Regions from separate parts of the Homo sapiens genome. Here regions 1 and 3 are each linked to region 2. Evidence: fine-mapped expression QTL. A gene starts in region 2. Each other region holds a variant in brackets. All regions are shown on one strand. Distances are between the middles of the regions. Region 1 overlaps TUSC3 (tumor suppressor candidate 3). Region 2 holds the start of TUSC3 (tumor suppressor candidate 3). Region 3 overlaps TUSC3 (tumor suppressor candidate 3).

The links. PIP is the estimated chance that this variant, and not a neighbour inherited with it, causes the effect.
Region 1: its variant is the best candidate, but not a certain one, in a credible set for the expression of TUSC3 in esophagus muscle (GTEx, PIP 0.59).
Region 3: its variant is the best candidate, but not a certain one, in a credible set for the expression of TUSC3 in cerebral cortex (GTEx, PIP 0.52).

Annotation. Positions count from the first base shown.
Region 1 is chr8:15,605,550-15,610,549 of GRCh38, forward strand. All of the region lies in intron 1 of TUSC3 (tumor suppressor candidate 3), which reads left to right. Among named protein-coding and RNA genes, the nearest start is that of TUSC3, 68 kb to the left of the region's middle. The variant A/G (reference allele first, on the strand shown) is at 2,809.
Region 2 is chr8:15,537,155-15,542,154 of GRCh38, forward strand. It overlaps TUSC3 (tumor suppressor candidate 3), which reads left to right and starts at 3,109. Exons shown (of 11, transcript NM_006765.4): 1 at 3,109-3,414. The coding sequence starts at 3,277.
Region 3 is chr8:15,705,764-15,710,763 of GRCh38, forward strand. All of the region lies in intron 6 of TUSC3 (tumor suppressor candidate 3), which reads left to right. Among named protein-coding and RNA genes, the nearest start is that of TUSC3, 170 kb to the left of the region's middle. The variant T/A (reference allele first, on the strand shown) is at 2,185.

The sequences.
Region 1 (5,000 bases), 68 kb after region 2:
TTTAAGATATGTGACAATTTGAAAGCATTCTAAGATGGACTGCATTGCCTTACAAATACCAAAAAAAATGGAGAAAAAAGTCTGTCAAGAGGGCATAAAATGTATATACATACTAGTCTATTTTCATCGTTTAGTACCATAAGATATACACAAATCTATTATAAAAAGGTCAAAACTTGTTAAAACTTAGACACACAGTTACAAATCACACATGACACCACTTGCAGTTGAGGGAAATGTAAACAAACATAAGGTTGCCATATTAAATCACAACTGCATAAAATTAACTGTAGTACGTTATAGGCTACTGTCATAACTTCGTAGCTGCATTCCGTTGCTATTAGGGTGAGCTTAAGTGTTGCAGTAGCCACTTAAAATGCCTTATGACACTGATCATCTCCATGTGAGCCCTTCATCTCTCCAGTGAGTTGCATATTGCAGTAAACAGTGATCACCCGAGGTTCTCCTGTATTTTTCATTCTGTTTAATGTAATAGTGTAAACCTTGAATAACACCATGGGACGCAAACAAAATGCCACTAGGGATGCTGGAGGTGCTCCCAAGAAGCAGACAAGCCATGACATTACAAGAAAAAGTTGAGTTGCTTGATAGATACCATAGATTGAGATCTGTACCTGTGGTTGCTCCCATTTTAAACAGATGATTCATCTTGTAAACAGGTGACAGAAACTTATAGTATGAGTAAATACAATACAGTACTATAAATGTATTTTGTCCTATGATTTCTAAATAACATTTTCTTTAGCTCACTTTATTGTAAGAATATTGCATATAATACATGTACAAAATCTGTGTTAATTGACTATGTTATTGGTAAGGCTTCTGGTCAGCAGTAAGCTTTTAGTAGTCAATTTTTGGGGAGTGAACACTTAACACGTGATTTTTGACTGTGTGGGTGCCCCTAACCTTCCCATTGTTCTATATTATTTCAAATATTTAGCATGTATGTAAAAAAGTTAATGAGTGAATAGGCACACACAAATTGTGGATATTCTTGTAGGTAAGTCTGTTTCATCTTGTTAAATAACTATAATACTGTCTTGTTTCATACCATGTTATGATGTAATCAGATTCCTCTCTGTAGGCATAAATATTATATCCAAATACTTGGAATTATGAACAGTGCTTCAGTGAATATCCTTTTATATTTACGTGTGTACTTTGTCTGATTATTTCTTTAGGATAAATTCCTAGAAATGGCATTGATGAACTAAAGGAAACACACATTTAAAGCTTCGTATGTATTATAAATGTGACTTCTTGAAAGATGTTACCAATGCATAGCCATATTGTATCCCTTGGTACAGTTTTAACTTACGTTTTCCAGTGGTATTTTTAATAAAACATTGTGTGTGTGTGTGTGTGTATGTGTATATGTGTATATATATACTTATAAAACAAAGTACAATGTTTTATAATATTTTAATCCAGTTAATATTAGCATTCAACATGGATGGTATCTTATGTACAGACTACCCGCAAGTTTCAGTAGTAAGCTTTTACCCTGTGCTGTTCTCTCTGATCATAATCCCAAATGTTTTAAAAAGGGCATTTCTCCTGCCACAAATGGTTGGGGGAGAGCGTCTGAACCAAGGAAACGTGTGGACCAGAAAAGAGCTGTGTTAATTCTATTTCTGTATTTTCAGTACATTTTTTTCATTACTTAATTAGTTACACAAATATTTATTTAATGAGGCAGGCACCGGCCTGGTCACTGGGCATACAGTGATGGTAGAGACAGTTCTAGGCTCTCAAGAATTTATAATTTAGTGATAGAAACTTTTAAGTGGCTCAAAACAGTCAACTCCTTTACAAACTACAGTTATAATACATTTGTAAAGTGTGTGTATAGTTTACATACATTTGTAAAATAATTTAGTGTAACAAAGCAAAATAGAAATAAAGATGAGAAAAAATTTTATTGAAACATGTCACCACCTACAAACAATTGTCATTAAGTAAAATTTACTTCTCCTCTAACATTTCATTATGAACTTCTAAAACATAAAGGTAAGCTGAGAGAATTTACACTGAATACCCAGATATCGACTACCTAGATTCCACAATTAACAATTGACTGTGCTTGCTTTATCGCAACTCCATCTTATGTATCAGCAATCATTCTGTCTTTTTAAATGCATTTTAGAGTAAGCTGGAGAAAAGTGTCCTTCCTTCAATATGCATAACATGAACTATTGTTTTAAGCAGCACTGTGTTTCAGTTAAATCTGTATTGATTGACTATATGCTATTAAAAATGTAGAAATTTTGTACTTTTACATTTCCTCCCTAATTCTCTTCCCTGTCAGCAAATATTTGATAAATTACTTTGTCTAGTTATGGAACGTAATGAAGTGTCATATCTTGAATGCCCATATAATTTACCTGAACTGGAATATTTTTGATAAGCATGCAGTGATACAGCAAGTGCAGTTTGGGGTTTCCTTAGCAAACCAGAATGGTGAGAATGTCTATAACAATAAATGCCAGAGTAGTTTATTCTTGGTTTTACATTTAAATGTATTTGCATTTAATTAGCACTATATTCACATTTGGCTTTTACCATAGCTTATTTCCTGAGTTCTTGATTTTGATTCACCTCTTGGCTGAATTTTATCCATAGCTTCTCTTTTCCTGAGTTCCTTATTTTGATTGAGTTCTTGGTTATATTTTATCCTCAAGAGGTTCCTCTCTTTTCCATGAGTGTTTAATGTGTACTGAATTCCTTAGTTTTTTTTTGCTTGCTTTGTTACTTTATATTGGTGCTTTTTGTAAACAATAAATTCCA[A/G]TATAAAATAGTTGTTTGTCTTATAGGGATAAATTGAACAATAGTAGGGACATCCTAGGGCTAGGGGTGAGCCTAGAATCTTATCTCTAATATTACTCAGTCTTCCACATGAAGTGTGATGTAAGAAGTTTCTTCGGAGATTTTTACCTTTGTATATTGATATGGTTTGGCTCTGTGTCCCCATCCAAATCTCATCTTCATTTGTAATTCCCATGTGTCACGGGAGGAACCTGATGGGAGGTGATTGGATTATGGGGGTGGTTTCCCCCATGTTGTTCTTGTGATAGTGCGTGAGTCTCGTGAGATCCGATGGTTTTAAAAGTGGCAGTTTTTCCTTTGCTTTCACTTCACTTCTCTTGCCTGCCACCATGTAAGATGTGCCAGCTTCCCCTTCCACCATGATTGTAAGTTTCCTGAGGCTCTCCAGCCATGCGTAACTGTCAGTCAATTAAACCTCTTTCCTTTATAAATTACCCAGTCTTGGATATTTCTTTATAGCAGTGCAAAAACTGACTAATACATATACCTTTGTACAAAATAACCAAAAGAAATCTTTGATTCTACTCCCAAAAAACTTGACTTGCTCTTGCCATTTGGAAGAAACTTGGTAGAATTAAACACTGTTTAAGTTGATGAAAAACAAGCGTTGGAAATTTTTTAAAGTACATTTAAAACTTTGCTCTTGGCTGATTTTCTGTTGGATTCTATTGAATTTTTCTTTGTTTTGACGATGTAAGCGTTACATATTTTAGTGACTGATTTGTGTGAATCAAGAATAAAGTCACTGAAAAAATTAACTCAATTTTACAATTTATGAGTATAGTTACGGTTTTGTTTTGCCACATTCTGTTAGTAAAAGTTTTTTTCAGCTGTGACACATAATATGTGGCCATTAATAGTGAAGAGTTACACACAATGACTTCTAAAGCAGTGCAAGATAATTTTATGATATAATGTATTACTACAATAGAGTACCTGCTATACTCATTTACACTGGTAATAGTCATCTTGTCTGGATCTGTATTCCCAAGAGAGGCAGGCCAGATGGCTGTGTACAGCTGGAAGTAGATTTTCTTCTAAGCTTTTAACAGCTGCTCTCATTTCTTATATCTGGTACTTGTTTTAAAATGAGATATTTATTTATAAATGAATGTCCAACAGAAGGATATGAAAGAGTTCAAGAAAAATGGTGACAGAAGCTAATGCAGTGGTGGAAAAAAAAATGGGAAGCTCATTTGACCCATTTGATGACTGTCCCTGATTAAAATGACTTCATATTTTGAGTCTTCAGAGAAAGTATCATGATTCCCATTATAATGATACTGTCTCTTGATAGTAGGGTATTGTACTTAAGCAATTTTTTAGTGAAAAATTGTCAGGAGGACAACAAACATTTAAAAAAAAACATGTTTTCACTGTACATTAAAAATAAAACAGAGTAACTCCCAAAACCAAAAAAAGGCCATTTTCAACTATTTACATGACTTTATGACCTATCTTTATCAATAAACATACACTTTTGTGATACTAATATATTACTATGAATATATTACCTTCTATCTTTCCACTTACTGTTATGATATAATTTTCTTACTAGTCACCACATTTCATTTTAGTCTCTGGTATTTTATTGTATTATTATGCTCTTTATTTCCTAGCTGTTTTTATTTTTGTTGCTGTTGATCACATAACTATGTTTATATGGTTTAACTATTTTTCTTTTGGAAATTTTTAAGGTATATTAAGAAAGGTATGATGAATAAATTATAATCAGTTTAATGTATTTTGTATCGTTGTTTTTATGAGGGGCTTTGCGTTTTAGGCACTGGATTTATTTCATAGCATACTTTGAAATCCATAAAATTCCATACATTCATTGATCCGATTTTGTTATTACCACAAGTATCAAATGCAAAATATTTCAGTATACTGCATGATGTTTTCGCTGATAAAATTAAGGTATAGCAACATCTAACATTAGAATTCTTAAAATTATTGCTGCAAGGGAGTAGTTAAGTTTCTCATGGAGAAACATTTCTGGTATTTTCAATGTAGAATTTAATGTTGATGTGTTTCTGTGAATTCACTGCTTCCTTTATTAATTTTTATGAATAAGGAAATACTAGCAAACTTGATTTATTTTAAATCTTTGGAATATTAATTTAACATCTGGCAACAGCAATTCTTAAGTT
Region 2 (5,000 bases):
GTCTGTCTGAGAGATTGCTCTGCACAATAAAACTTGGTCTCCATAATCCTTTACCTTAACCTAAACATTCCTTTCCACTGATCCCAGGTTTTCAGATAAACTCCACCAATCGTCAGTCAGAAAATGTTTAATTTTATCCATAGCCTGGAAGCTCCCCTCCACCCCACTTTAAGTCGTCCTGCCTTTCTGAACGAAACCAATGCATTTCTTAAATGTATTTGATTGATGTCTCATGCCTCTCTAAAATATATAAAACCAAGCTGCACCCCGACCACCTCGGGCACATGTTCTCAGGACCTCCTGAGGCTGTGTCACTGGCCAAGGTCACTCATATTTGGCTCAGAATAAATCTCTTCAAACATTTTACAGAGTTTGACTCTTGTCATCAACCTAAGTCAGGGAAGGAGGGTCAACTGATAATGACATCTCATGTGTTTCTAATGAATGCTAGAGTTACAAAATGGGAGACAGAAAACAAATCCCTAGGACCCTGTGGAGGGAGCGTAACTTGGAAACTGAATATAAAGGCAGCATGTTTGGGGAGGATGGGAAAATGGAAGACAGCTTTGAGGCTCTGAAAATTGGTAATTAGAAGGATTGAAGTACCATTGCTTACAATAAAGAAATTACCACAAGTTGGGGAGAGAAAGGGAAAGATGATGAGTTGTGATTATGTTGAGTATATCTAGATGTCAATATTTTACTGATAAAGATAATAAATTTACTTGTCTCCAAACAGACAAAAGTTGAGGCTATTTTTATGTCTCAAGGAAACAGCCAGGAGCCATTGTTTAGGAGTGTTAAAGCAAAAATACGCAAGAGGCAATTAGCCTGGGGTGGTTGTGTAAGTGGAGCTCTTATGTACGCACATAGGAGCTTATCTTGGAAACAGTTCTTGTAACTGACTTATTAAAACCCACCAGCCGCAGGCAATCACAAACAGCCAACAGGATGACTGGTTATACAACTAGGGACCTCCCATCAGACCACAGCCATATAGGTAAATGCCTTATTACACCATGACCAAATAAGGCAAACGTAGCTGTAGCCAATTAGGTAATTTCCTTACTTTGTTTTTATGTTTAGTCTATTGAAGCTTGCTCTCAGGCCACTGGAGCTGAGCTTTCTGAACACTTCTGGTTCAGAGTGCTGCAGATTTATGAATTGTTGTTTGCTGAAATAAGGTGTAAAGTTTATTTTGTCTAAAGTTTTTAACAGGAGTGATAATTCAGGCAAAATGTTCACATAATAGTGGGAAATCAAAAGCTTGCGATACAGAAAAGTGATATATATTTGTAAACTCCTTTAACAAAGGCATCGTAGCATAAGCATGACTGTAGAGCCAGACTGTCAATGTTCAAATTTTTTCTGGGCCTTAATTTCTTTATCTGAAAATCGTTAACAGTGGAACCTAGTTGATAGGGTTGTTGTGGAGCAAGCGTTCTTAATCTGGAGTCCATGAAATTTCAGCATCTGTGAACTTTGTATTGAAAAAATCGTAACTTTATGTCTATTAACCTCACAACAGTTTCGTTTCTTTGAATTATAAAGGCAGGCAACAAACCACAGTAGTATTATCAGTACCTACAACTTTGTTTCCTACAGAAATTATTTTCATACTCAGTAAGTTGTTGCAGATATCTTGAACAATTATACGTATATATTCCTTAAGTATTATATATATAATATTTTTATATTCTGTATATATTTTTGGAGACAGGGTTTTGCTCTGTCTCCCAGGCTGGAGTGCTGTAGCATGATCGGAACTCACTGTAACCTCAAACTCCTGGGCTCTAGTGATCCTTCCAGCCTCAGTCTTGGAATAGCTAGGACTACAAGTACTCCCCACCATACCCAGCTGTTAATTTTTTTTTTTTTCGTAAAGACAAGGTCTCACTATCTTGCCCAGGCTGCTCTCCAACTCTTGGACACAAGCCTCCTGCATAGGTCTCCCAAAGCATTGGGTTTACAGGTGTGAGCCACCGTGCCTGGCTAATACTATGTATTTAATTTCATGCGTTTAGAAATATGTGCTATTTTAAGAAGGCGTCTACAGGTTTTATCACATTACCAAAGGTGTTCATGGCACAAGTGAAGAAATCTCTAGATACTAGAGTAATAAAAACCATGATGCATTAGAACGGATCAGGCCCATATCAAACGTTCAACATACAGTCTGCTGCTATGGTTCTTTTTTTTTTTTTTTTTTTTTTTTTGAGACAGAGTCTCATTCTGTCTCCCAGGCTGGAGTGCAGTGGAGTGATCTCGGCTCACTGCAACCTCTGCCTCCCGGGTTTATGCCATTCTCCTGCCTCAGCCTCCCAAGTAGAGGAACTGCAAGGCGCTCCACCATGCCCGGCTACTTTTTGTATTTTTAGTAGAAATGGGGTTTCCCCATGTTACGGCAGGCTGGTCTTGAACTCCTGACCTCAGGTGAGCCACCTGCCTCAGCCTCCCAAAGTGCTGGGATTACAGGCATGAGCCACCATGTCCAGTCTGCTATGGTTCTTAAAATATTCATAGAATAGAAATTGAAGTAAGTCTATTCGTTTTTATATTAAAAGTAGCTAGTACGGTGCTCTGTACTTATGCACTCCATGGATGCTGAATGAGTCATTGAATGAAGTGGAGTCTAGGTTGTGCCTCAGGCCTTCCAGTGGGGCTGGAAGGAACAGTTGTGAAGTTGTGGGGCGGCTTCTGTGCATCGGGGGACTCTGGAGTTAGATGGTTTCCCAGGGCTCTGAAGGAGAAGAGCTGTGTTCCTAATAATGATCTCAATGGGAATAGAGATTGCTGGGGACCGCAGGGGCCAGGTTGTCATTCCCCAAAGCTTCCCCTTCATCATCCAAGAAGGCATTCAGGTCTTTCTGTGCTAGGCCCCAGGTAAAGTGCTGGACTACCCAGTAATTGGGTTCAGTAGCAGGATGGCCTCAGATTGAGGTCCCAGGGCCAAAGGACCACTCCTCTCCTCAGCGCTGGTCCGGGAAAGGCAAGCTCCGGGCGGGAGCGCACGCCGCGCCCCCGAAGCCTGGCTCCCTCGCCACGCCCACTTCCTGCCCCCATCCCGCGCCTTTCCAGGTCTTCTCCCGGTGAACCGGATGCTCTGTCAGTCTCCTCCTCTGCGTCCTCGGCCGCGGCCCGGGTCCCTCGCAAAGCCGCTGCCATCCCGGAGGGCCCAGCCAGCGGGCTCCCGGAGGCTGGCCGGGCAGGCGTGGTGCGCGGTAGGAGCTGGGCGCGCACGGCTACCGCGCGTGGAGGAGACACTGCCCTGCCGCGATGGGGGCCCGGGGCGCTCCTTCACGCCGTAGGCAAGCGGGGCGGCGGCTGCGGTACCTGCCCACCGGGAGCTTTCCCTTCCTTCTCCTGCTGCTGCTGCTCTGCATCCAGCTCGGGGGAGGACAGAAGAAAAAGGAGGTAGAATGGATCCCCTTGGCCTTCCCCTGTGGGCGGGGGCGGGCCAGGGTGGGCCGCGTTGCCAGGCAGCCCTGCCGTGTTGCTAGGCAGCCTGGTCGCCGGCGTGGGCGATGCCGGCGCTGGGGCGGGAGCCGCGAGGGTGGGAGGCCCTGGGGCGTTTCCGGGACGTGGAGTTAGCAGGGTTCTGACTTGAAAAACGACGGCAAAGCGTGTTCTTGACTGCTTCTGAGCACCTCACACCTTTCAGACCCAGGGCGCCTTTATTCCCAGCTGGAAGCCCAGCTTAGAGCAATGGTGCCACTAAAAGGGGTGTGTTGGATGTGAAAATACCCTTTGGAAGTATTTATAAGCCTGCAGGAAATATGTTTTCCTTATTTTCTTACTCTGCTCCCTTCATTACCCATTTCAAGAAGCAACAGAACCTGTGCAGAGTGTGTTTTAAGTTACACTGTATGTTTATTTTTGTTTATGTTGAACTCGGTGTATACTTGTGAGAATAAGCTTGCATTTTTTATTTTGTGCAAGTACAACAGAACATATTGAGAGTGTGTTTTAAGTTATCCTGTATGTTTACTTTACGTTGAACTCAGTGTATACTTGTGAAAATAACCTGCCATTTATTTTATGTGGATTTATTTCTGAAGTTCATTCAATCTGATTTCAATCTTAATCCACCATTAACTTTGAAAAGGTTGAGATTTGAAGTGACTGGTTGTATTTAAAGTAGGTGGAGTGTTTGTAAGTTCTAATTATCCATCATGGATAGTTGATCTAGCTGCTTCAGCAAAAATAGTTATTTCGGGAATGTGACTAGGGTTTCTAATTGTGGACCATTTTGGTGAGAGTTATCTGCTTACATAATTGAAGATAGTTTTTCCTGGTTAAGTTGTACACCTACACAGGGCTCAAAATCTGAATTGGGTTTAAGATATTAACAAAATTTTAATAGCTGGGTAGAGACAGTGAAAAAATACCCTCATATGCAGAGTGATTGTTTCCCTTTCTCTTTATTCTTAGTCTGAAACAAATATTGTGTGTTCAATTTTAACTAATGTACCTCTCTTCAGCTTTTAAATTTTAACATGAAAGTAGGTCATATGAAATTATTGGTGAAGTTCTGCTAAGGGATTTAGAGAACCACTGTTAAACTGAAATTGTATTTACAAATATAAATTAATGATTTTTTTTAGCACTTGGTATTTGTATACCATATTCCAAGAGTTTTAGATTTAGGAGTTCACGAGAAAGGTAGAAGAGTGAAGAAAAAGTAGACAGTTTTTTTTGTGGATTACCAAAGCAAAGGGCAATAAAAGATGATGAAGAACTCCATGGAAATTGTGATGTTTTATCTCCTAGGACGATCCCTAGGACCACGCCAATTTTCATTTGAAGGGTGTGAACCCCAAAGTATTTTAAGACTGACCTTAATCAATTTTTTTTTTTTTGCCAGTGTTAAGGATGCACTGGTGACACAGCCTCTGGAGGTCCTGATGGCAGGTGCCCAAGGTGGTCAGGGTACAGCTGGCTTTTATACATTTTAGAGAGACATAATACATTGATCAATACATGTAAGGTCTACATTGGTT
Region 3 (5,000 bases), 170 kb after region 2:
GGGTCATCTTCAGTCTGTCAGAGTTTGTAGGTATTACAGAAATAGCTTCTCTTTTGGTTCTCATCCCCTCCTTCATGCTTTACAACTTACATATTATCAGATAAAACTGTGCCGCCTTTCCTGCTAGTGTACCTTGAATCTCTGTGCTGTGACGTAACAGAGGCATCCATTTTACATACTTGTTTTCTTACATTTTAGAAGTTTGGATTTTAGATTCCAGTTAAGTACTCTTTAAAGATACTCATATTATACATGGTTGGATCTCTCAAATTTTAGCTGTGAGTCTGACAAAAACAGTTACCCTTTGTACCTAATTAAACCAGATTGTAATCTAGAGACAGGGGTGTTAACTCCTATTGTCTCAGTACTTCTGATGTATTATAATATTGCATACTGTTTCCCTAAATTTTCAGTAAATAATAAATTACTATTATTGCATATATATGGTATATTTTGGTATATATTTATGTGTTTGCTGTTTATTTTCATTTGAGAGTCTAATAGTGTTAATTCTTTGTATTTATGTTGTCAATAAGTCAATTAAGGAAGCAAAGGAAAAGAAAGTGTTATCTTTTCAAGAGCAGCATTCTATTTTGCAGTGCTTTCCTCAGGAAATGAAAGAAAGATTTCTCATAATCTAACAAGAACATCCAATTCCATGTTAAAATATTGGTTTTAAGTAAGCCAATTAAGAAAGAACCCTTCAAACTTTTCACATGACTTTGCTATTATCATTCAGACAGATGTCAGAGTCATAATATGAATACTTAAAAAGGGTTTGAAGTGTTAATAGAAGAAGCTTCCACTCTGAAATTCTATTTGCAGGAGTAGAGAAAAGATAACAGTATTATCAATTTCGTGTAGCTCATACTGAAATGTGGATTTTAATACAAGATGTTAATATACGAATAAATATTTCATAACTTGAAAATAAAATAATTACGCCTTCTGTATGGGTGAAACAAACTGCATTGAACTCTTGATTGTGCAAATATGATCACGAGCATTTTCTAAGCACTCTTCCATTGTACAATGACACTTTAATAAAGTACTTGTAGAGAAGCATGTATTTCAGCTATCAACTTTATTCTTTTACTATTTTGTCCTTTTAAATTTGGGAAGTTAAGTTGTAGGGCGCAAGAAGTTCATTCAGCCACCCAGAGCAACATAAAAAACTGATAATTAGGAAAATGCTACTTTTGATCATTGAATCATATTATAAGTCATCATTTGTTGCTATAAAAGTATACTTTATGGGTTTTGGACTCCATGTTTTTACCTGACTGCTTTTTTTGAGTTACTATGTCTCAAAGCTTTATCACCATGGGTTAGTAGTTTACTAAAAGTCTGTGAAACTAACCTAATTTTATATCAGATGGTATATTTGAGAGTTAGTCACTTTCATAATGCCTACATAAAGTAATTGAACTGGTAATGTAAATGCATATACAGCTAAAAATGCTTATGCCAAGCTATTCTCAGTAAGCTTTAAAATTTACATTTAAGAAATCTGAAATGTGGTTATGTTGGACTTTTGTTTCCTGTCCTGAACTTCTGCAATAAGCATTGTAATAAGAGTCACATCATATAGTCTGTCTTTTCAGTGATTGAATACAAGAGAAGAATGTCTAAGTTTTGTGCCCTATGTTTTTTAAACCTATATTTTTTATGTTTTAGCAAGACATTTTTGATCATATATTGTGGCAAACACCACCACTAAATACCAGAAATCAAAGCACAAGTCATTTTTCTCTCTTGATGTTTTCCCAGGCCTGTAGGGGAAATGATATGTAAGTAGACAACAGCCATGCAGCTTGGTAACAATCAAATATAATGTTGAATATATTTCTGCGAGAGCAAAGATGGAACAGCAGCTTATTGCCTAGATGACTCTATAGGAGATGTGGAATGGGAAATGGAAAAGCTCAGATGTTTACATTGAAGTGGGAATTTGACATGTGCATCCCTGGGTGTGTGAATTTTCTAGGGCTGTCACAACAAAATGCCACAAACCGGGTAACTTTAAAACAACACAAATTTGTTCTCTCACAGTTCAGGAGGCTGAAGTACAAAATCAAAAGATTAGCGGGGTTGGTTTTTTTGGAGGTTCTAAGGAAAGAACCATCCCATGCCTCTTTCTTAGGTTCTAGTAGTTGCTGGCAATTGCTAGCGTTCCTTGGCTTG[T/A]ATTAATAGATGCCCCACTCCAGTCTTTGCCTCCATCTTCACATCCCCTTCTTCTGTGCTTCTCTTTGTATCCTTTTCTGTCTCTTATAAAGTTATAAAGATACTCTCATTGGATTTTGGGCCCTCCTAAATCCTGAACTAATTAAATCTGTTTCCAAATAAGGTCACAGTCCAAGTTAATTTTTGGAGGAGGACATCATTCAACCTCACTACACTGGGCAGAGTAGCATAAGAAAGTAAAGAAAATACCCAAAGGCCTAGAGGTATGTAAAGTTATTGGTAGATTCAGGATAATAAATGTAGAGGAAATGGAATAAATGGAGTGTGGAGGAATACTGAGAAAGTTGATTGGGAATAGATTAGGAAAAACCTTGTGTGTCACAGGAAGATGTTTAGACTCTGCTGTAGGCATTTGGGTACCAGAAGCCTGTAAACCTTTGAGGTGCATGAGCAGATTTGTATTTTAGAAAAGTGACACACAAAACTGAAAGACTTAAAAGACTAGTCTGAAGACAGAAGTAACATATAATGGCTTCCTAAATGAAAGTGTGGTAGTGATTTAAAAGTGATGATTATTAAACTTCATCTGTGGTTCAGTGAGCAGTGTATAGAGAGGGTTGAAATGATTTTGAGAATGCTTTGGGAGGCAAGTTGATAACATATGCCATAACTAAGAATTTTGGTGGAGAAGAAAGATAAAACATTCAGTTTTTAAACAGAGAATTGGGTTAAACAGTCAATCAACGTTTATTTAATAATGCTTTCTGTCTAGCATTAGTCTAGATACTTTGGAGATTATAATCATGGCTTCTATTTCAAGATCTTTACAAGATACGTGGAGTCATGATACTGATAAAAGTGAAACAGAAAACAGTCCAAATCCGTGTGTAAACTTGATGATTCTGACTGATAAATACATCAGAATTTCAGATTAGGAAAAGATCTGTGTGGAGTTAGGTGCCATAAAAAGGGTTTCCTGAGTCTTATGTAAAGTAAATTAACAACTTTTGATCTAAATTGACAAAGTAGTACTTAATTTAGATTTGATAAATTATATTTGAATTGGTTCAAAAGAAGATAGAACTCCAACTAATAGTTGATCATTAAGCTTGGAAGGCAGATATAAAAATGGTGTTTTTGTACAGGAAAGATAGCCTGACTAGAAGAGAGAGGATAGCCAAATGTTAGATTATATTATGTTTGGGAAGGTATACTGCATCCAACATAATCTGTCTTGGAAGATCAGGTAGGTAAATTTGTATTCACTGCACAAATAATTAGTTACTGTTGGAAAAAAGTTTTTATGTTAGTAATATTAGCTCAACAGTAATATGTAGTTCTGTTATTTTTTAGAAAATAAAAAAGATTGGAGGAATGCCAATCTGAAAGCTTTTACCCCAATCCAAGTATGAGATAAGTCCTGTTAGAGAAATTAGATTTTGTATATTTTGACTACACGTATTTCCTCGTTCTCCTTTGGCTGATTGAACTAGCTCTAGTTAATCCATATTCTTATATGTATTTTATGCCTTCTTCATTTTTGCTCCTCTGACTTACTCATTATTCCCAGCCAGAATTTAGCTCCAGATGAAGCTCCCATTGAGCCATTTATATACTCCATATCTAAGAGCACGGGGAAAGCTTGAATGATGTGAAAATGTGGATGATGAGGAGGAGGATGATGATGATGATGATAAATTACCTTTAATGTGTTAGGAGCTGTATGTGTTATCTCCTTTAGTCCTTATAGTATCCTTATATGAAATTGCCACTATTATCTCCCAATTAGGTAAGGAAAGTATGGCTTAGAGAGGTTAAGTAGCTTGATTTAAATAGGGTTCCACTGCAACTAGACCTGTCTAACTGCGTAGTCCAGATTCCTCATCACTTTAATATAGCATACTGGCTCACCTACATCTTTTCCTTGTTGCAGTCCATTACATTATGGCACTCAAATTCAGCTTCCTAAATTGACCTACAGTCACATTTCCTTTCTATTCAAAAGTCTTCTGTGACTTCCTTATACTTAACAAAATTCATTATTTCTCCCCTATTCCAGGATCCCTCCAAATGTAGTGACAGCCTCTTCCCTCCTGGTGGACTTATCTACAGTCTATACTGTTTTTTACCTTAGTGCGCTCCCCTCCCTGCCCTTTTCGGAGTCCTACCTCCTTTTTCTTCTATTTGCTGAAATGTTACTTTAGGTTTTGTCTGGAGGCTAGAATCATCCTATGATGATCTCTCCCAAGAAACTTTGTCTGTTTCTCCACCCTTCCTCTTAATTTAATAATGCTTTATTTGCTACCACTTATGCTACCTAATTTTTTGCTTGGTTTGTAGTTTAGATAATATATAGTTATTTAAACTGGAATGTAAACTTAAATTTCTTAAAGTCAGAAATGATTGTTTCCTCATTTTTGTGTCTTCTAGTATAGGGCCTCGTGCTATTTAAGCCTAGATGAAATAAAGAGTGAGAGTGGAAATGAGTTCTGACCGAACAAGGGCCTTCATTCTACAGTGAGTAATCAATCTGCAGTTTAAAATAAGCAGATTCATTGAATGGGCCACAAATTCCTATGGCAGGAAAACATAGCTGACATGAAAAAGGAAACACTTGTTTACCTCTCCACTGTCATTTTTCCAGTTATGTTCCAGAGGTTGGCTGAGCAAACCCCCAGGCTACTTATTAAAATGCAGATTGCAGAAAATGGGACCTAGAAATGCACCTTTGTAGCAAGATTCCCAGGTTATTTGAGTGAAATTTCTACAGAAACATATATAGGCATAAAAATGCACAAATCATAAATGTGCAGCTT